3 linked regions of the Homo sapiens genome follow. The protein of the gene in region 3 interacts with the protein of the main gene of each other region in a biochemical or structural test. Each region holds a gene or a part of one and is shown on either strand. Other genes may lie near its edges.

Region 1 (6,838 bases), on a different chromosome or scaffold from region 3:
AGTGCTGGGTTCTGCCTCCTCTAGGACTTGTGTTTCACACACGCACCAGCGGCCCTCCCAGCGCAGAGCTCCCTGCCCCCACTGATAGCACCTATATCCCCACTTCCCCTGCTCTCCTGATCGCCTGTTTTCTTGGCAGTTCCTATAGAAGAGCAGCGTGGGGACTACGACCTGAATGCTGTGCGGCTCTGCTTCCAGGTGACAGTGCGGGACCCATCAGGCAGGCCCCTCCGCCTGCCGCCTGTCCTTTCTCATCCCATCTTTGACAATCGTGAGTAGCGAGGGAGACGCAGGAAGGGGAGAGGGTGGGCCTGAATAGGAGGAAGGGGGTTGGGGTGAGTGTGGCCTGCAAGAGGCGCTCTGGCTTCATTCAATCATCTTGCGTATTTGTCTACTCTTCTCTGCCCAGCTCTTTGTTGGCTGGGGAGAGAGGGCAAAGAAGACCCAGAGCTGTCCTTGAGGTGTAGCTCTGGCCTGGCAGGAAGTCTAGCAGAGAGTCTGATGGGAGATGGGCATTTTCAGTATTGTGTGATGAGAAGGTGGTGTGCCCACAACTGCGATAATGACTCTAGGAAATGAACTCCCAGGAACAAGATAGTGTTCGAGAATGATGATTCAGTGATGGAAGCCCACAGATGAATTGGGCTGACTGATCAGCTGCAGTCTTTAGTTAAGTAACCAGCAGGATGAATGGAAATAAAACGAATCTGGAGCCCCAAGGATGGGAAACCAGGATAAACTGGGGGTCAGGAGGGAAGGGCTCATTGCCAAGGTGGGTATGGACTGGCCTTAAAGATTGCTTTGGTCAGGTGGAGAAAGAGTGTGATCAGATTGGCACCCACTGGACTATAAGCTCCGGGAGAGCAGAGAGGTTTGGGTTTTGTGTGTGGTCGTATTCTTGCTTAGATCAGTGTTGAGTGCACAGTAGGCAAATACTTGTTGAATCGGTTGGGGTGAGGAGCTAATAAGAAGGTCTGACTTTGGCTACAAAGGTGTAGGTGGCAAGCTCTGGGCAACCTTGACTCTGGGCTGGGCAGGGAAGTTGCATCTCCTGCAGGCCACCCTGGGGACCTCTCGTGGCTCAGGTCATCCTCCCTTGTTTTCACTGCCTCAGGTGCCCCCAACACTGCCGAGCTCAAGATCTGCCGAGTGAACCGAAACTCTGGCAGCTGCCTCGGTGGGGATGAGATCTTCCTACTGTGTGACAAGGTGCAGAAAGGTATACATCAGGAGGCAGGGGTGGGCTCTTGGGAGCAAGGGGTGAAGCTGAGCAGAGAAGTGGAGTGTCAGGTAACTGGCTTTGGATACTTCCTCCTGTGCCTCGGGGGCCTCAGGTGGGCCGAAGGGTGATGTATCAGAAGACAAGCATCAGAAGTTGAGGGGGAGACCATGGAGGGTTAGACACACTGACCCACACTGCCACCGCATCTCCTGCAGAGGACATTGAGGTGTATTTCACGGGACCAGGCTGGGAGGCCCGAGGCTCCTTTTCGCAAGCTGATGTGCACCGACAAGTGGCCATTGTGTTCCGGACCCCTCCCTACGCAGACCCCAGCCTGCAGGCTCCTGTGCGTGTCTCCATGCAGCTGCGGCGGCCTTCCGACCGGGAGCTCAGTGAGCCCATGGAATTCCAGTACCTGCCAGATACAGGTACACAGCTGGGGTGGCAGCATCAGGGCAGCTGGGCTCTGTGCCGTGAGAGAGAGGCCAAGACTGCATGTCTGGGGCTGTGGTTGAGGGCCAGAAGCTGGAGTCAGAGCTTGGGATCCAAGAAACTGGAATCCATTTCTTGCCTCATTTAATAATAATGATACCTCAGACATTGAGCTAGTACTACACATCTGCCCCTATTCCAGGCACTTCACTGGATTACCTGATTTTAATCTCATGACCCTTTTGAAGTAGGAGATAGTGTCCAACTTGCCTGGGTTCACGTGGCTAGTAAGTAGCAGAGTCTAGCAGAGTCAGCGTTGGAACCCAGGCCATCTGGCTTCAGGATCCTTTTGCCACACTGGTTGTCTTGTCACTACCATACAGCCCAGCCACATTTTGGTCGAGGTTTGAGTGTCCACTTGGTACCAGGGCCTGTGCCAGGTATTGTGAATACAAAAAATGAGTAAGACATGCTCCCTGCCCTTCAGAGTCTCAGTCACTTGAGGAAGACAAATGTGCAAAACAGATCCTTAAGTCACGGAATGACATGTGAAATGGAGGTGTGCGCAGAGAAGCACGGGGGCACAGTGGCCTCCGGGGAGCTGGAGACAGCTGCATGGAGAAGGTGGCATTGAAGCTGGAGAAAGACACAGAAGTGTGTTCTCCAGGCAGGTGGCCCAGCACCTGGAAGGGAAGGGGTGTTGGCAACTGCACGGCCTATTCAGGGCCACCTTCGTGGTTTGAGCTGATGTTGGGCAGTGAGCAGGCTCAGAGATTGGAGGGCCTGGTTAAGCTGAAGGCCTCTAAGCAGAGAGGTGACAGGAGCAGATTTGGAAGTTGACTCAGGAGGCCACGTGTAGAAGATCAGAGACAGACAGACTCAAAGCAGGGAGGCCATTCTGGAAATGTTGCTGTAGTCCAGGAAGAGAAGATGCGGCACAAACCTTACAGAAGGAATAGCAGAGCAAGATCACATCTCCACCACTGTCCTCAGTTACCCTTCAGCCCTGCAGCCGTTTTGCGTCTTACAGACCAAGCTCAGTCTCACCTCAGGACCTGTGTCTAGCTGTTGCCTCTGCTTGGAATGCCCAAGGTTTTAATGCAAGTGGCTCATGCCAGTCCTTCCCTGACCTCTAAATTAGCCCTTCCCTCTACATTTAGACTGTCCTGACCTCACTTCCAGTATTGTTACATCACCATATCGTCCCTGGACCACCGTCACTTGAGATTTTCTGGTTTGGTTTTGTTTGTTTGTTTGAGACAGAGTCTCACTCTTGTCGCCCAGGCTGGAGTGCAGTGGTGCAATCTCGGCTCACTGCAACCTCCACCTCCCGGGTTCAAGTGATTCTCCCTGCCTCAGCCTCCCGAGTAGCTGGGACTACAGGCGCCCGCCACCACATCCGGCTAATTTTTTGTATTTTTAGTAGAGACGGGGTTTTCACCATGTTGGCCAGGGTGGTCTCGATCTCTTGACCTCGTGATCCACCCGCCTCGACCTCCCAAAGTGCTGGGATTACAGGCGTGAGCCACCACGCCTGGCCGAGATTTTCTGGTTTGTATATATGATTGTGTCCCTCTCACTTTTTCACTAGGATGCCAACTTTTTGGGAGCAGACACCTTGTGTGCATACTCACGGCCACATCCCCAGTGTCTAGAAGGGAGGCTGGCACATAGTAGGTGCTTGATAAATATATGTCAAGTTACTGGCGGGGAGTGAGAGAAAAGAAGATAATCATTCCAAGGTTTCTAGCTTTGGTGACAGGGCAGATGGCGGATGGTCAGGGAATGCAGGAGAAAGAACCTAGTTTTTGAGGGATGATGAGGTTGTCTTTGAATTGATGGAATTGAAGTGCTTTGGAGCTACTGAAATACCACTGTAATTAGAAAGACAGTTCTGAAAGCTCTGACTAAAATATGAAACCATTAGAGATAAGAATAAGAGTCTCTGCTGAAGTCTTAAGGCAGTTGTGCCTCAGCTGCCCCAGAGTGCCAAGAAATTCTCGCCAGGCCTGGGTGGAGGCTGACAATGAGCCAGGATGTGAGCAGTGCAGGAAGGTGTGAGCTGGAGGCTGGGGCCCCCCAGGTCTCCTCTTTGCCCAGAGCATGGCCCCTGTACTCGGCCTCACCATGTGGTCTTAGAGGGGCAGATTCAGCCAACAGAGGCCTCCAAAAGCTGTGGGATTCTCAGAACTGCTGAGTGTCACACATCCCTTCTCATTGGCAGAGAAGGTTGGGAGAATGGGTCTTGGGAAAGCCTGGCTCCTCCCCTTCCTCCTGAGGGACCTTTGAGAGCGTCGGGGACCCACCTGAGGAGAGCAAGTCCCACTTCTCCCCCTTACTTTCCCAGACGATCGTCACCGGATTGAGGAGAAACGTAAAAGGACATATGAGACCTTCAAGAGCATCATGAAGAAGAGTCCTTTCAGCGGTGAGATGGGGACTGGGAAAGCCAGAGAGGAAGGCAGCGGGCAGGGAGGGGACACCCTGGGGCTGAGAACTGACCTAGCCCTTGCCCTACAGGACCCACCGACCCCCGGCCTCCACCTCGACGCATTGCTGTGCCTTCCCGCAGCTCAGCTTCTGTCCCCAAGCCAGGTAAGGATTTCCTTTTGTCCCACTGGAACGACAGGTTCAGCTCTGTTCAGCTGAGGAGCAGTGGAGATGAAGACTCCTGGGCCCCATTACAGACCTACTGAATCAGAGGCTTTGAAAGGATGGCGCAGGAACCAGCGACTTCCTGGGATGCTAATGCACACTGAAGCCTGGGAACCACCGTGCCACTTAAATTCTATATTGGGTATCTTGGGAATCAGAAGTTAAAAATGCAGAATCTCTGCTCTCATCTCTCACTTGAATTGGGGGAACAAAAATCACCTCTAAATTAGCAAGATGTGTGTGCCTGTGCGAGGCTCAAAAACTGACAAGCTCTGCACTTCAGGCCGCTGCTCACTTGGTGCTCCATGGGCTCATTGCCTCTCAGGACTTAGTTTTTCAGCTGTAAACTGAGGAGTCCAGCTTATCTCTCCAAGTGTCCCTTCCTCTAAAAGGCTGGAAGAGTTTCGTGGGCTTGAGTAGTCAGGGAGGACTCCAAGGTGGAGGTGTGGCTAGAACTGGACCCTACAGGCTGGGTCAGATGGGGTAAGAGGAAGGAGATAGGGTGTTGGCAGTGACTCCCTAGAGAGGGATTGAGCCTGAGCACCATGAAGAGGGGCTGGGGTACAGAGGACGGGGTGGATCTCTAGGGCTTTCTCTGACCCCTGCCTCTCTGTCTCTCTCCTCCAGCACCCCAGCCCTATCCCTTTACGTCATCCCTGAGCACCATCAACTATGATGAGTTTCCCACCATGGTGTTTCCTTCTGGGCAGATCAGCCAGGCCTCGGCCTTGGCCCCGGCCCCTCCCCAAGTCCTGCCCCAGGCTCCAGCCCCTGCCCCTGCTCCAGCCATGGTATCAGCTCTGGCCCAGGCCCCAGCCCCTGTCCCAGTCCTAGCCCCAGGCCCTCCTCAGGCTGTGGCCCCACCTGCCCCCAAGCCCACCCAGGCTGGGGAAGGAACGCTGTCAGAGGCCCTGCTGCAGCTGCAGTTTGATGATGAAGACCTGGGGGCCTTGCTTGGCAACAGCACAGACCCAGCTGTGTTCACAGACCTGGCATCCGTCGACAACTCCGAGTTTCAGCAGCTGCTGAACCAGGGCATACCTGTGGCCCCCCACACAACTGAGCCCATGCTGATGGAGTACCCTGAGGCTATAACTCGCCTAGTGACAGGGGCCCAGAGGCCCCCCGACCCAGCTCCTGCTCCACTGGGGGCCCCGGGGCTCCCCAATGGCCTCCTTTCAGGAGATGAAGACTTCTCCTCCATTGCGGACATGGACTTCTCAGCCCTGCTGAGTCAGATCAGCTCCTAAGGGGGTGACGCCTGCCCTCCCCAGAGCACTGGGTTGCAGGGGATTGAAGCCCTCCAAAAGCACTTACGGATTCTGGTGGGGTGTGTTCCAACTGCCCCCAACTTTGTGGATGTCTTCCTTGGAGGGGGGAGCCATATTTTATTCTTTTATTGTCAGTATCTGTATCTCTCTCTCTTTTTGGAGGTGCTTAAGCAGAAGCATTAACTTCTCTGGAAAGGGGGGAGCTGGGGAAACTCAAACTTTTCCCCTGTCCTGATGGTCAGCTCCCTTCTCTGTAGGGAACTCTGGGGTCCCCCATCCCCATCCTCCAGCTTCTGGTACTCTCCTAGAGACAGAAGCAGGCTGGAGGTAAGGCCTTTGAGCCCACAAAGCCTTATCAAGTGTCTTCCATCATGGATTCATTACAGCTTAATCAAAATAACGCCCCAGATACCAGCCCCTGTATGGCACTGGCATTGTCCCTGTGCCTAACACCAGCGTTTGAGGGGCTGGCCTTCCTGCCCTACAGAGGTCTCTGCCGGCTCTTTCCTTGCTCAACCATGGCTGAAGGAAACCAGTGCAACAGCACTGGCTCTCTCCAGGATCCAGAAGGGGTTTGGTCTGGGACTTCCTTGCTCTCCCTCTTCTCAAGTGCCTTAATAGTAGGGTAAGTTGTTAAGAGTGGGGGAGAGCAGGCTGGCAGCTCTCCAGTCAGGAGGCATAGTTTTTACTGAACAATCAAAGCACTTGGACTCTTGCTCTTTCTACTCTGAACTAATAAATCTGTTGCCAAGCTGGCTAGAGATCCGCTTTTTTTCAGCAAACACTGAGCACACATTTTGCTAGTCACATCAGGCCAGACATTGGTGGTAGAGAGCTGGGTGAATGCGTGCACTGTCCTCTGAGAGCTTGCAGTCTGAGAATGCCCTTGGAAACCCCGAGTTACCGTCCAGTGGATGAAAACGGGCAGCTAAGGCAAGAGTCCTAGCACACTGAGAGCCTAGTAGAGCCCGCTGGCTGTGGGGATGGAGCAGTTTCAGGAGTCTTCCAAGAGGCCCCATTAGCTCCAGGTCTTAGATCAGCTGAGAGTGGATGTCAAAGAGGGACTAGCCAGCGTCAGAGGTAAGAGAAACGATGTTCGAAAGATGTGATGGGGCCAAATTCCTTGGGTGGCCCAGGGAGTGTGTGCTTCTCTTGGGGAATGTGTGGTGCCAGGTAAAGATCTACCCGGCCCACCGATGCTTTGATACTCTGTTCTGGGAGGAACGGTGAAATCTTCAATCCACAGCCTCAGGAAGCC
Region 2 (7,627 bases), on a different chromosome or scaffold from region 3:
TTTTATGCATTTGAAAATATTCTTCTGAGACAGGGCTTTTATCATATTGCCATAGGGTGCCACGATATAAAAAAGGTTAAATACTCTCTGATTCAGAAGTATCCAATGATGACTTCTCTCTCATGCATTTAATTGAAAATCTGGTTTTTCTCCTTCTCTGCTAGTTCTCTACCTCTCTCCCCACCTCCCACATCATAGCCTATTCACATATGTCTGAATCTCATGATAGACAAGTTCAGGTTCTTTTCCCAGGTTCTTTTTACCACATCCCCCCACCCCCACATAAAAAGTATATATGGCACAGCCTAGGTTCCACCCAAATCCTTTCTCCTCTTCTTCCTGGGCCCACAACTCTCCTACATACATTGGTATACCTTGCGCTTAGGGATGGCCATGTGACTAAGTTCTAACAGTGGAACATGATCAGATGCCACTTCCAGCCTCTAAGACAGCCAGTGTGTTTCCTCCATAAGCTCCTTCTCTTCCTCCCAACTGGAGACTCTAAATGATGACCCTGCCTCAAGCAAGCAAACAACAAGTCCCTCAGGGGTGGTGTAGGCTGCAAATGGAAGGAGCTTGAGTCCCAAACCTTCCACGGAGAAGGCTGGCTACCAACCTGGATCACTCACCCAAGACTGCTCGAAGAGTTGGTTTGAACCATTGTGTTTTGGGGTCTATTTATTACAACAGTTTAGCTTGCTTTGTGAATAGATTTAGTGGCAGAGCCTCCAAATTCTATAGATACATTGATCTCAGTCCTAACCGCATCTGGAACACCATTAAATAAAGGAATTGCAAACCCAGAGAAGGTAATGAATTTGTCTAAGGTCATACAAGATGGCTAGGATCAGGACCCAACTCTCCAGTTTTCTTTCTTCTCTGCTATTCTGCCTTCTGTGATCCTACATAAGTGGGCATGATTGTATAACATATGCGGCCATGAGATTTCTCTTTCAGCAAGAGAAAGGGACAGGAAGAAAGAGAGGGAATGCATTTTCTTGGCCTGAATTAGTGTGAGCCATTAGTTACCTACATTGACTAAATTATCTGGAATGAACATTCAACTCTACATCACATATAGTTAAAATGACAGATCTGCTTAAGATTGTTTCTAGCATACGTTATTTCAATTTAGGCAAATGTGACCATTCAGTGTGAGGGGACCATACTGTCATTAGGTCCCTGTCAGTTCTCAATTATACTGTTATCTTAGAGGGGGAAAAATGTGAAATTTGAATGTAGACGAGTGTTGATTTGACTGCTACAGTTTATTTTACGTATAGAAATAAAATAATGTGTAGCAAAAGCATTATTACAAAGATGATAATGAAATAACTAGTATTTATAATAGTATAATAGTATAGTATTTATAATAGTATGATAGTTTAATGACTATTTGTCAGATGTTGTGTAAGAAACTTTATACACACACACACACACACCTCATTTAATTCCTGTATCAATCAGGATACAGGACGCTGTGGTAACAACTCCTCAAATCTCGGTGGCTTGCACAACAAATGCTTATTTCTTTTTTTTTTTTGACACCAAGTCTTGCTCTGTAACAGGCTGGAGTGCAATGGTGCAATCTCGGCTCACTGCAGCCTCTGCCTCCTGGGTTCAAGCGATTCTCCTGCCTCAGTCTCTCGAGTAGCTGGGAACACAGGCACGCGCCACCACATCTGGCTAATTTTTGTGATTTTAGTAGAGATGGGATTTCACCATGTTGCTCAGGCTGGCCTTGAACTCCTGACCTCAAGCGATCCACCCACCTCAGCCTCCCAAAGTGCTGGGATTACAGGCATGAGCCACTGCGCCCAGCCCCAAATGTTTATTTCTTGCTCATGTGACATGTACTTCCTCGAGTTTTTCCTTCCTGAGATCTAAGCTGAAGGAACAGCTCTCTGGAGCCACGCCATTCTGGTGGCGGAAAGGAAGAGTAAAAGTGGTAGAACCTTGCAATGCTCTTGAAGCGCCTATTTGGAATGTCTACATCATGTAAATGGTAATGGACAAGTATGTATAATCCCCACACCAAAAAAAGGGGACACTATTGGGGACAATAACCACATTTCAATGCTGCAAGACGGATATTGACTGCACCCCCTTCCCACTTTCAGAAAGAAGAAGAGTAATTTTGCTGAACTCCTTCTAGAGACTGGAAATGTCCCTTCCAGTTGGGGTGATTAGGGAAGGCTTTGGTAAAATTTGAGCTAGAGTTTGAAGGTTAGGTAGACTACTGGTGGGTGAAGAAAGAACAAGGACCTTTGTAGGCAAAGGAAAACCTCAGAATTACAGAGGTGGAAAAAGAGTTCTAGTCAAGCCACTTCAGCTGGCTACAGAGTAGGTGGGAAAGAAAATGGGAGGACAAGGGCTCAGATGATGGGGGGTTGGGGCATTGGGGGGACACTTGAAAGCTAAACTAAGGGGTTGAACTTAATTTAGGAGGCAGTTAGAAGCTTTTACATATTTTTGAGCAAGAGAGTGACATAATTAAAATGATCTGGGCCAGGTGTGGTGGCTCACACCTGTAATCCCAGCACTTTGGGAGGCTGAGGAGCTTGGGTCACCTGAGGTCAGGAGATCGAGACCAGCCTGGCCAACATGGTGAAATCCCGTCCTACTAAAAATACAAAAATTAGCCGGGAGTGGTGGCATATGCCTGTAATCCCAGTAGCTGGGAGGCTGAGACAGGAAAATCGCTTGAACCCGGGAAACAGGTTGCAGTGAGCCGAGATCGTGCCACTGCACTCCAGCCTGGGCAACAGAGCGAGACTCCATCTCAAAAAAACAAAACAAACACACACAAAAAACCAAAAATAAATAAATAAAATGATCACTTCTGAATACTGATCTAACTAGGGGTTGCAGGGTGGGCTGATATAGGGAGAAACTGGAGAGCAAGGAGATCACTAAGGTCCCTACATGTCCAGAACCAAGATAGAGGTCTTGAACTAGGATGGTGGCAGTTAGAACAACAACAACAAAAAGTCAATTCCAGGCTGAGTGCAGTGGCTCATGCCTGTAATCCCAACGCTTTGGGAGGCTGAGGTGGGAGTTAGAAAGCAGCCTGGGCAACACTGCAAGACCTCCTCTCTAAAAAAAAAAAAAAAAAAAAGTTAGCCAGGTGTGGTGGTGCCCACCTGTAGTCCCAGCAACTCAGAAGGCTGAGGTGGGAAGATTGCTTGAGCCCCAGGAGTTCAAGCTTGCCGTGAGCTACGATTGTGCCACTGCACTCCAGCCTGAGCAAGACCTTGTCTCCAAAAAAAGGTCAATTCCACTGACTTTTCTAAGGTGTACACCATCAAGGGGCAGCTCCATCTCCAGGCCATTGGCTCATGAGACATTCTGTAGTCAGAAGGCTAGGGCAGATTGCTTTGAGCAAGCCCCCATGGTGGTTCTCACTCCTACTTCTTTGGGTATATGCCCCTCTGTTTAAAAATAAAGTTAATATGCATTTAAAAAAAAAAAGGAGAAAAAGGTCAGTTCCAGAAACTGTGTGAATAAAGCATTTTACTTGCTTTTTCTATTAATCTATAACATATGTTGATTTTTTAAAAAGAATATAAGAGCTATGCAAATTGGAGCTTCAAGACAACTTCCCATCTCCCTAGGAGGAGATGGCTGCCCTAAACCCCCCTACATAGAAATCATCCCACTGCTTGGGCTTAAACTTGATGTTGGGGAAATGAAAAATCCAAGCTAAGGCCGAAGCCTGGGGCCTGGGCGACCAGCAGAATGAGGACCACTGGTCAGTTTCAGGCTGAGGTGCGTCTTCCAGGGGACAATCTCTAGCTGGCCCTTAAACATTCAGACTTCAAGCTCTATTTACAGCATAAAGGTGTTTCAAAAGACGTGATACAAATAACTGCAAATGCTCTGCGATGTGTTAAGCACTGTTTGAAATTCGTCTAATTTAAGATTTTTTTTTCTGACGTAACGGTTAGATTCACGTTTCTTTTTTTTTAAGTACAGTTCTACTGTATTGTAACTGAGTTAGCTTGCTTTAAGCCGATTTGTTAAGGAAAGGATTCACCTTGGTCAGTAACAAAAAAGGTGGGAAAAAAGCAAGGAGAAAGGAAGCAGCCTGGGGGAAAGAGACCTTAGCCAGGGGGGCGGTTTCGGGACTACGAAGGGTCGGGGCGGACGGACTCGAGGGCCGGCCACGTGGAAGGCCGCTCAGGACTTCTGTAGGAGAGGACACCGCCCCAGGCTGACTGAAAGTAAAGGGCAGCGGACCCAGCGGCGGAGCCACTGGCCTTGCCCCGACCCCGCATGGCCCGAAGGAGGACACCCACCCCCGCAACGACACAAAGACTCCAACTACAGGAGGTGGAGAAAGCGCGTGCGCCACGGAACGCGCGTGCGCGCTGCGGTCAGCGCCGCGGCCTGAGGCGTAGCGGGAGGGGGACCGCGAAAGGGCAGCGCCGAGAGGAACGAGCCGGGAGACGCCGGACGGCCGAGCGGCAGGGCGCTCGCGCGCGCCCACTAGTGGCCGGAGGAGAAGGCTCCCGCGGAGGCCGCGCTGCCCGCCCCCTCCCCTGGGGAGGCTCGCGTTCCCGCTGCTCGCGCCTGCGCCGCCCGCCGGCCTCAGGAACGCGCCCTCTTCGCCGGCGCGCGCCCTCGCAGTCACCGCCACCCACCAGCTCCGGCACCAACAGCAGCGCCGCTGCCACCGCCCACCTTCTGCCGCCGCCACCACAGCCACCTTCTCCTCCTCCGCTGTCCTCTCCCGTCCTCGCCTCTGTCGACTATCAGGTAAGCGCCGCGGCTCCGAAATCTGCCTCGCCGTCCGCCTCTGTGCACCCCTGCGCCGCCGCCCCTCGCCCTCCCTCTCCGCAGACTGGGGCTTCGTGCGCCGGGCATCGGTCGGGGCCACCGCAGGGCCCCTCCCTGCCTCCCCTGCTCGGGGGCTGGGGCCAGGGCGGCCTGGAAAGGGACCTGAGCAAGGGATGCACGCACGCGTGAGTGCGCGCGTGTGTGTGTGCTGGAGGGTCTTCACCACCAGATTCGCGCAGACCCCAGGTGGAGGCTGTGCCGGCAGGGTGGGGCGCGGCGGCGGTGACTTGGGGGAGGGGGCTGCCCTTCACTCTCGACTGCAGCCTTTTGCCGCAATGGGCGTGTGTGTGTGTGTGTGTGTGTGTGTGTGTGTGTGTGTGTGTGGAGGGGTCCGATAACGACCCCCGAAACCGAATCTGAAATCCGCTGTCCCTGCCGCTGTTCGCCATCAGCTCTAAGAAAGACGTGGATCGGGTTCTAGAAAAGATGACTCCCTGCACGCCCCTCCCTGCACCTCCCGAGCAGTGATTCCGACAGGGCCTTCACTGCCCCTGATTTTAGGCGGGGGCCGGCCCCCTCCCCTTTTCCTCCTTCAGAAACCCGTAGGGGACATTTGGGGGCTGGGAGAAATCGAGGAGATGGGGAGGGGTCCACGCGCTGTCACTTTAGTTGCCCTTCCCCCTGCGCACGCCTGGCACAGAGACGCGAGCAGCGCCGTGCCTGAGAACAGTGCGCGGATCCCACTGTGCACGCTCGCAAAGGCAGGGTTCACCTGGCCTGGCGATGTGGACGGACTCGGCGGCCGCTGGTCCCCGTTCGCGGGCACGCACAGCCGCAGCCACGCACGGATGGGCGCGGGGCTGCAGGTGCATCTCGGGGCGGATTTCTTTCTCAGCGCTCGGAGCGCAGGGCGCCCGGCGTGTGCGCTCCCTGCCGGAGGCGCGGGGCTGGCGCGCAGGGCTCGCCCCTCACTGCGGCAGTGGGTGTGGACCCTGGTGGGCGAGGAAGGGGGAGGATAGGCTGTGCCTCCTCCCACTCCCGCCCCCAGCCCCCCTTTTTTTCCCCCTCGGAACGCGAGGTGCCATCTTTTTTCGGCGTGTCACGTCTTTACGGTGCCATGCCAAACCGGGTGGCCGGGCTTCATAGGACAGGGCGGGGCCTGGCATTAAAGGGAGGGGGACAATCAGCGCTGAAATCTTGGCGTTTTGCTGCTGCGGGCGTGAGCACTGGGGGCGTTCGCCCAGCACCTTCTTCGGGGGCTCTTTGCTTTGTCTGTAGAGGTTACGTGATCTGCGCTCCCAGCCCTGGTTTCTGGCTTTTATTCTGAGGGTGTTCAGTCAACCTCCCCCCTACGCCCATGCGCCTCTCTTTCCTTTTTCGCTCCTCATTTCCGAGCCCATTGTTGGATCTCGAGGCTTGCTGGGTTCGATGAACTCGAGTCAACCCCCCGACCCCCGGCACGCATGGAACGGGCGTGACCGCGCGCAGCCTCGTCTCGGAGTCTGCCGGCGCCGGGAAGCTTCTGAAGGGATGGGATTCGAGTCTCCGTGCGCGCTGCGGGCGGCGGCAGAGGGATCTCGCCCCTCCCTACACCCCAAGTGTCCTGAGGGCCACGCCACACCAGGTTGCCCAGCGAGGGACGCTGGCTACCCATCCGGGGATGGGTGGGGAGCCCTGGCGGGGCCTCTCCGGCTTTACGCCCTGTTGCTTCGCCTGGCCGGAGAATGTGAGGAAGGGGCATAAGGTTACTGGTGCTTCGGCCACACCCATCTTTCTGAGCCCACTGGACTGGGCGCAGAGGGGGGATTGCCATGGAAACCACAGGTGTCCGGAGAGGGGATCTTGGGGCTGGCCTCACCCCTTCCCTGCGGAGATTGGGGACCCTGGGGTAGGGGGAGCCGCGCCCAGTCGGCCTCCTGGAGGACACGGGAGGAAGCCCCGAACCCCCGCGCCTGAGGCTGTTTCTGATTGGCCCCTGGAGGCCGCAGACACGCAGATAGGCGGCCCTGGGTGTATTTTTATTAATATTATGTCCGTACTGATTAATATTATTTATCTTAAATAAATTTCACCCGTGTCCAAGTTCACCGCGCCCCCAAAACCGAGTCTGGGGCGGCAGGGGGAACTCCTGGCCAACGAATCCATGCCTCGCCCTCCTGTGATGAACCTGGTACGCACGGTTTTCTGGTTAATTCTATCGCTGAAAACTGGTGCGGGGGGCGCACTTCTGAGACGGAAGAGCATCTAGGAGCTGAATCCTCCACGCGGGTCGCCCAGGTTGATCTGAATTTCTGGGGAATGGCTTGGCTGCCCGCCCGGGACCAGGCCGACCCTCCTTGACGGTGGCGTAGAGGGCTGGAGCCTGGGTACTGCGAGGCTCCTCGCATGGCTGGGCCCGCCGCGAGGGGTTGCAGAGCGGCTCAGGGATCGATTCAAGCATCGTCTCTCCTCCCTCGCCCCCAGACAGAGCTGGGCGCGGGGTTCCCCTTCCAGATGGAGCGAGGGTCTCGGGGTGGCCCCGGAAAAGGGGAGCCCGCGGCCACGGCTACGTATTGCCATCTCGCGAGCAGAGATGTCACCTCCTGCCTTTGGAGGAAAGGGAGCCCGGTGGGGATGAGCGCATTTAGCCCAATGCTGGGAACAAAGCGCACTCCGCGCTTCTGCGATTTCGCTCCATTTTGAAATGTGTTGGCGCTTTGGTGGGGCCGCTGCGGTGGGCAAGGCCGGGGGCGCTGTTAATGGAGGAACCTCAGGGGGACGGTCCTTCGTAGGAAACTCTATCCTGGCTCTGCGCGCGCTTTAAGGAAATGGCTTCCCTCCAGGACCTCGAGGGATGCAGCTTTTGCGC
Region 3 (6,947 bases):
ACCCATCCCTCATCCCAGAGACTGATGCCGTGGGTGTGACTGTGGTCCTCATCACCTGCACCTACCATGGACAGGAGTTCATCCGAGTGGGCTACTACGTCAACAACGAGTACCTCAACCCTGAGCTGCGTGAGAACCCGCCCATGAAGCCAGATTTCTCCCAGGTGGGGCCTGTTTCCACTTCCTGCTTCCCACAAGGCCGTTCTTTATACTTGGGGGGAGTTCAGCCATTCAAATTGAGAGTCAAGGTCACTTCTTAAGGTTTTCAAGTAATATTCAGTTCTTACAGTACTGTGTTAGAAGAGGAGAAAAAGACCTTTGTCTCTCAAAGGCATGTCTTAGAGAATTAAGATTAGGCCAGCCTGGGCAACATAGTGAGACCCTGTCCCTAACCCCCGCAAAAAAAAAAAAAAAAAAAAATGAGCCAGACATGGGTGGTGTGCTCTACTCTGGAGGCTGAGGTGGGAGGATCGCTTGAGCCCAGGAGTTTGAGGCTGCAGTGAGCTCAGATCGTGCCACTGCATTCCAGCCTGACCAACAGAGTGAGACTGTCCCTTAAAAAAAAAAAGTCCTGGGCCAGGCACAGTGGCTCACGCGTTGTAATCCCAGCACTTTGGGAGGCCGAGGCTGTAGGATCACCTGAGGTCAGGAGTTTGAGACCAGCCTGGCCAACATGGTGAAAGCCCGTCTCTACTAAAAATACGAAAATGAGCCAGGTATGGTGCCTTGCACCTGTAGTCCCAGCTACACAGGAGGCTGAGGCAAGAGAATCGCTTGAACCCGGAAGGCAGAGGTTGCAGTGAGACGAGATCACAGCATTGCACTCCAGCCTGGGCAACAAAAGCAAAACTCCGTCTCAAAAAATAAATAAATAAATAAATAAATAAGGTCCTGGCCACAGGTGTTTTCTGGAGTTCCATATGTAGGTTGCTCTTGCTGGGCTTGAGATGGGTGATTGGGGGTGTCCTGGCTCTATGGGACCAAGGAGAGGGCGTACCTACAAGGGTTGACGTTCCTCTTCCTGCCCCAGCTCCAGCGGAACATCTTGGCCTCGAACCCCCGGGTGACCCGCTTCCATATCAACTGGGACAACAACATGGACAGGCTGGAGGCCATAGAGACCCAGGACCCCTCCCTGGGCTGCGGCCTCCCACTCAACTGCACTCCTATCAAGGGCTTGGGGCTCCCTGGCTGCATCCCTGGCCTCCTCCCTGAGAACTCCATGGACTGCATCTAACTGCAGGAACCCAGAGTGTCCCAGCACGCCGGGAGGGGCAACCAGGCCTCCCAGCGAGTCCTGCAGGGCCCATCTAGAGGACTTTGGGGGCCATCAGCTGCAATCCAGGTCTGTCAAACTCAGCCCCTAGGAAAGAACAGGCCTTGGGTCTCCCCTAGTCCTGGCCAGAAGGATGATCTCGCTTTTCCTCTACAGGCCTATAAGAAGCAGGTACTTCAGTTCTAAATTCTGACTTGTGTTCTTTTCGTCTTCATAAATTCTAACTAAGGCCACTGTGCCACTGTGCACCCTTGAGTACCATTGATCCAAAGCTTTCCCACAGACCTCCCTGGCCCACCTAGAGGCTTTCTTGGTCAGTGCCTGTCAAGGCTCCAGTCCTGCTGAGCCAAAGGCTTTGTCATTCCTTTCTCTTCCTGTACATCTGAGCAGACCCACTCCAGCTTTCTGGTGTCACAGGCGGGAATGTTAGTTAGTAGGTAGACTTAGATCCCATTTCTGTCCTGCTCCCAGGAAGATTCTTAGGTCCTCTTCAATCCAGCAGCCCCTCCCAGAGGTGTGATCAGCAGGATGCTGAGGAACCATGTTGCCTTTCCTGTCAATCACAGCCACCTTCCTGTTATCTCCTAAATGGATCTGGCTTTTCCTGGAGGCTGCCATGGTTGGAAGATGGTATCAGAGGGCCTGCCTGGGCAGTCTGTCTCCGGGCCAGGGTCAGGGACCCTCTGCCTCTGGCAGCCTTAACCTGTCCTCTGCTAGGACCAGGGTGATTTCAAGCCAGGGAAGCAACTGGGACCCTGAAAACTGTCCCTCCCCAGCCCGCTCCCCCTCTCTGTGCCCTGGTCCCCTTGCTGCCATGTGGATGCTGTTGTGATTGCTGTTTGTATATTATCAAAATGTTTTTATATTAAAAATGTTTGGTCTGAAAATTAAAAGCACTTCATTTAGAATGATTGTTTGTGCTTTTGTCTCTGGTGGACTGAAGCAACTTTGTCCACTCTCCCCCAGAAGTGGCCTCTTGCCCTGTCCAGTGGGTTGGCTGTCCCACGTCTTCTTTCCAGCTTCCTACTCCAGTCTTAATTGGTTCTACAGTTGTATTCCAGACTGAGGTTCCAGGAGGGGTTTTTCTTTGTCAAAACTTAAACCAGCTGTCCTGCAGATAGATTATAATGAGTGATTTTTCAGACTTTGCCCTTGACCCACAGGAAATTAACATCGTGATCCCAACACACAAACAGCAATGCTTTTATTAAATTTTACTAAACCTTACCATGTATCTATCCATCCAGAGGCGGAGTGGTCAGCCATTTCCCCATAGTTCACAGAAAGGCTCTGACTCTCCCTCCCTGGAACTGTGGTTGATCTGGGAACATGGGGGCAGACAGCAGCTGGAGAAGGTGGAGGCTATTCAAGTCGAAGCAGCAGATCGGCTTGTAGTTAAGCCCAGCTAGCCCTTCCGAGTCGGGGTGACCTGGCTTCTCCCCTCCCCTGACCCTCTCTTAAGTGCTTCTCAATCAGGAGCAGTTCGGCCCCGCAAGAGCACATTCACCAATGTCAGGAGACAGCGGTTGCCACAGCCAGCAGGAAGATAGAGGAGGGGCTACTGGCATCCAGTGGGTAGAGGCGGGGGATGTTGCTCAACACCCAGTGGTGCACAAGACACCCCCCAGCAGAAAATGATCCAGCCTCACCGTCAGTAGTGTCGCAGTTGGGAAACCCCGACTGTCCTCTGCTAAGTGTGTACTGAAAGAGGATCCTGAAGGAAGGGGCAGGTTCCCTTCGCATTGCCCAGACAGGAAATACAGACGGGGAACAGGAGCAGGGAATCTGCCTGGCTGTACCCCAGATTCCTCATCTGTGCAATGGGAGTGATGATGGTAGCACCTACGCGATGGGAGTGTGGTGCGAAGGAGCGTTAAGTGGGTGCCAGCTCTTACTACTGGCAGGAGCCCAGGGCTAGGGCCCAGCAAAGGGGTGGACACTGAGCGCCCCTTCCCAGCCACCCCTTGCGCCGGGCCCGGCATCCTCCTGAGTGCGGCTGGGAAAACCCAGGAGGCCCCGCGGCCTGGCCCCCAAGCAGGCCTGGCCTCGGCCGCCCAGCGCCAGGCCTTATGAATGACGCCGGCGGCGGCCGGGCGACCTCTGACCCGCGCGCCGGCCGCGCCCCTCCCCCGCTGGCAGGTGGACAGCGGCTGCGCCGGGCAGGCCGCGGCGCCAACTCCGGCTGGCCGACAGCCGCTGCCGCACTGAGCGGGGGCGGGGGACTGCGGCGCGCGCGGGGCCGGCCGGGCGCCCGCCGGGGCCGCCTCCTGAGCCTCGGAGCGCTGCGCGGCCGCCAGCCAGCCTCCGCCGCCCCGCCCCGCCGGCCCGGGCCCGCAGACTGCGTCTCCGCCCCGCCCTCTCACCCCCGGATTGACACTGAGCGTTCTGCTGGGGGGCTTGGCGGACCCGGCACCTCCGCCAATCGGCGGCCTCGCAGGGCGGACCCCGGGCCCAGTCCAGCGTCTCGGCCAATCGGACGCGTCTGCCCGCCCAGCTGCGGCCTCGCGAGCGAGTGAATGGCCGAGAGTCCGCGGTGCGTGTCCCGAGGCTGAGAGCCTATAGTGGCGCGGGAAGGTCGCGGGAGGGCCAATGGGAGGCGGCGCTGAGCCGTCAGTCAGGGCGGCCTAGGCCAATGAGCGGCGGGCTGCGGGGGCGTCACAGACAGCGGCAGAGATCTTGGGCTGAGGTTCCCGGGCGGGCGGGCGCGGAGAGACGCGGGAAGCAGGGGCTGGGCGGGGGTCGCGGCGCCGCAGCTAGCGCAGCCAGCCCGAGGGCCGCCGCCGCCGCCGCCCAGCGCGCTCCGGGGCCGCCGGCCGCAGCCAGCACCCGCCGCGCCGCAGCTCCGGGACCGGCCCCGGCCGCCGCCGCCGCGATGGGCAACGCCGCCGCCGCCAAGAAGGGCAGCGAGCAGGAGAGCGGTGAGTGCCCGGGCTGTGACCCCGATCTTGGCCCTGCGCTGCCAGCCCTGGCCTTGTCCATCATCGCCTGGCCCCTCCCCCTACGGGGCCCCTCATCCTCTCTGCCTACCCCCCAGCGCCCCTTGCCCCGGCCTGTCCAAGGCTGGGGCCCGCGGGCCCGCAGAGTACCCCCTGTAGGGGTCCCCTTCCCCTAGGGCCGCCCCATGCTGCAAAGACCGTGCTCCCCCCCAGCTGTCACTGCCAACCATGGCACGTATGACCGCTGGGGCCCCACATGGGCCCCTGTCACCAGCCTACCCCCTCCTTTCCTGGCCCCTCTTCCCAGATTCTAATCCCCCCACTTCCTCACTCACCTCTCTCACCTATGGGATCCTCTGCCTGACCCCGACCCAGGTTTCTACCAGTTTGGGAATGCGATGAGGTCTGTCTGCCTCCACCGCGCAGGGACCTTGGCCACTTGCTGACCACACCCCTCCCCCCTCCAGCCCCCGCCATCTTTCTCCTGCCCTTTCCCTCTTCACCTTAGCACAGCCCCCCCTTCCAAACCCATCCTGCCCCCTGAACATTTCCCAGAGCCACCTCCAGCATTATTTTTTTCTTCTGTGTCACTTGGCATGGGGGACAGGATCTTTCTGGGTCCCTCTGCCTCTCTCATCCTGTCACTCTGTCATTCTGCTGCTCTGCTTGTGCTCCGTCCTCCAAGCAAGCGTCTGTCCCTGGCTGGGGTAGCAGACTGTTTATGAACGTAGAGAATTGCTTCAGTGCTTCCAAAGCCAAGTTTGAGCTGGTCTTGTTGGGATTCATTGCATCCTCTTTCCTGCGTTGGGGTAAGGGGGTGGTGGCAGAGCCCCCTCTCATTTCCTGTCTTGCAGTGAGCTCTAGGCTCCATGGAGGGCCCCTCAATAAATGGTCGTTTCACAACTGAGGCTCCGTCATTCACCCAGTCCCTGGGGCTTCTTCCACCACTCCTGGCTTGGGATGAAAAGTGTCTGGGTTTAGCGAGGTTCATTCGGTTCTAACTGAGATGGTCAGAAAGAGCACTGGGGAGGAGGAGGCAGTCAAAGAGAGTAATGGGTGACGTCTAGTGATTTGCTTTGACGTCTAGTGATTCTGATCATTCCCAGGGCTCAGCCAGAGAGAGACCTGTTTCACCCACTTGCCCACACATTAGGTTGGTCTTTTCCAGCCAGCCAGAGAAAGAGATTCTCTATCTGGAAATACCATCAGAAATGGTCTTGAACCCCATTCCCAATTTTTACAGCTCTTAAATTGTTGTCACTCCAGTCTGAAAGCTGGAAGGCAGCTGGGATCCCCTGTCCACTTACCCAGAAATAGTCGGAACTATTGGTCGAAAAGGAAGGCCAGTTTTTGGTCTCAAACCCCAGCATCTGAGTTTCCTGAATGCCCCCTCCCAGAAAGGTATGAAAGCCAGGGAACTTTATTCCCATACGGATTCAAATAGCAGAACTCAGAGTCACAGAGCGATCATGAAGAGGCCTGACATGTCACCAATGGGTGGGGGCTGGGGAGGGAAATGCCTGTAGCTGAGTGCCTGATGACAGAGGAGCAGGTGGGTAGTGTCCAAAAAAGGTCTGGGCATGAGCTTGGAGGGGACTTGGCCGGGGGGGGAGGAGTCAGGCCCCCAGCAGGTGAGGCCAGCTGGGAGGTGGAAGGTAGAGGCAGGCAGCTATATATTGCGGTAGCTCAGTTGAAAGTTGGGGAGATGACAGTCCTGGAAAACCTTCAAGGCTATCAGACACATGTGGTGGGGGGTGGAAAGCCACACAAGAAAAAGGATCCCAAGAAAAAGATCAGAGGCTCTGGAAGGAACCACTGATTCTCTCAGAGCACAGGTCAGACACCCAGGAATGAATGATCATGGTAAAATAGAGCTACTATTTATTGGGCATCTAGGCTGTGCCACAGGCTAAATGGCCAGGCGGATAGAGATACCTACTCTGGTGACTTTCATAACGGGCTGTTATCCAAATTTTCCAAAGGAGCCCTCTGGTAGAAATGACATCCATGACATAGATGATGTCACAGAGGCAGGATTCACATCCAGATCCATCTACCAGCAAACTTCTTGGACCCCAGAATTCCCCGACTTTGACATTTTTCAGCAGCCTCCCAGATTTTTACTCTATCATATTTTCTTAATTTAAAATAATAAAAGTTTTACTCACTTGTGTTCAGATGTAAACTTGGAGCTCATTCTAAACAATAATATAAATGAAATCATGGGATTGCCATGCCAGTTATATTTTCTCTGATACGCATTAAATACAGTGTAACTAGATAAATGAAACATCCCGAAAATCATGTCATGTTCTGCCAATGGGACTATGTCACACGTTGAGAAACGCCCGAAGCTGTACTTCCTCCCAGAGGCTCCCAGAGAAGGAAATAAGATGAGGAAGGAAGTCCCTCTTTGCTTTGAGGCGCTCTGATTCTGAGAGGATGGAGTTAGACAAAATTTGCCCTCTTAGAAGGGTGGGGCAGGGGCAGGGGCAGTAGCCAGGCCAGCCTGCAGGGGGCACCTGGATTTCATCTGCCAGACGCCGGCCCGACTGGGGTCAGGAAAATGCCCAGGCCTTGGGAGGCACCAGTTAAGCATCCTGCAGTCCCCTGTGGTACCATCTCTGTGCCAGGGCAGGACAGAGTCCGCCTCCTCCCAAGAGGCCAGGGATCCAGAATGAACCCTGGAGTGGAGTTGGGGGAATCTACACCCAAAGATGGCAAAGCCATTGGGA

Evidence for each region. Proteins that work in one complex are often made in the same cells at the same time.
Region 1: of the proteins of PRKACA (region 3) and RELA, one has a biochemical effect on the other in vitro, tested with the Homo sapiens proteins (4 studies listed by BioGRID and IntAct, with this or other methods).
Region 2: of the proteins of PRKACA (region 3) and MAPT, one has a biochemical effect on the other in vitro, tested with the Homo sapiens proteins (9 studies listed by BioGRID).

What each region holds. Positions count from the first base shown.
Region 1 is NC_000011.10:65,653,099-65,659,936, reverse strand, and holds the end of RELA (transcription factor p65), read left to right. Parts: intron 1-139; coding exon 140-271; intron 272-1,114; coding exon 1,115-1,219; intron 1,220-1,437; coding exon 1,438-1,650; intron 1,651-4,001; coding exon 4,002-4,082; intron 4,083-4,174; coding exon 4,175-4,249; intron 4,250-4,936; coding exon 4,937-5,559; 3' UTR 5,560-6,336; downstream 6,337-6,838. UniProt on the Homo sapiens protein: NF-kappa-B is a pleiotropic transcription factor present in almost all cell types and is the endpoint of a series of signal transduction events that are initiated by a vast array of stimuli related to many biological processes such as inflammation, immunity, differentiation, cell growth, tumorigenesis and apoptosis.
Region 2 is NC_000017.11:45,889,929-45,897,555, forward strand, and holds the start of MAPT (microtubule-associated protein tau), read left to right. Parts: upstream 1-4,625; 5' UTR 4,626-4,758; intron 4,759-5,551; exon of another isoform or gene 5,552-5,585; intron 5,586-5,854; exon of another isoform or gene 5,855-7,627. UniProt on the Homo sapiens protein: Promotes microtubule assembly and stability, and might be involved in the establishment and maintenance of neuronal polarity.
Region 3 is NC_000019.10:14,114,749-14,121,695, reverse strand, and holds the start of PRKACA (cAMP-dependent protein kinase catalytic subunit alpha), read left to right. Parts: upstream 1-3,933; 5' UTR 3,934-4,148; coding exon 4,149-4,194; intron 4,195-6,947. Other genes in the region: histone chaperone ASF1B, read left to right, coding at 1-164, 1,031-1,237.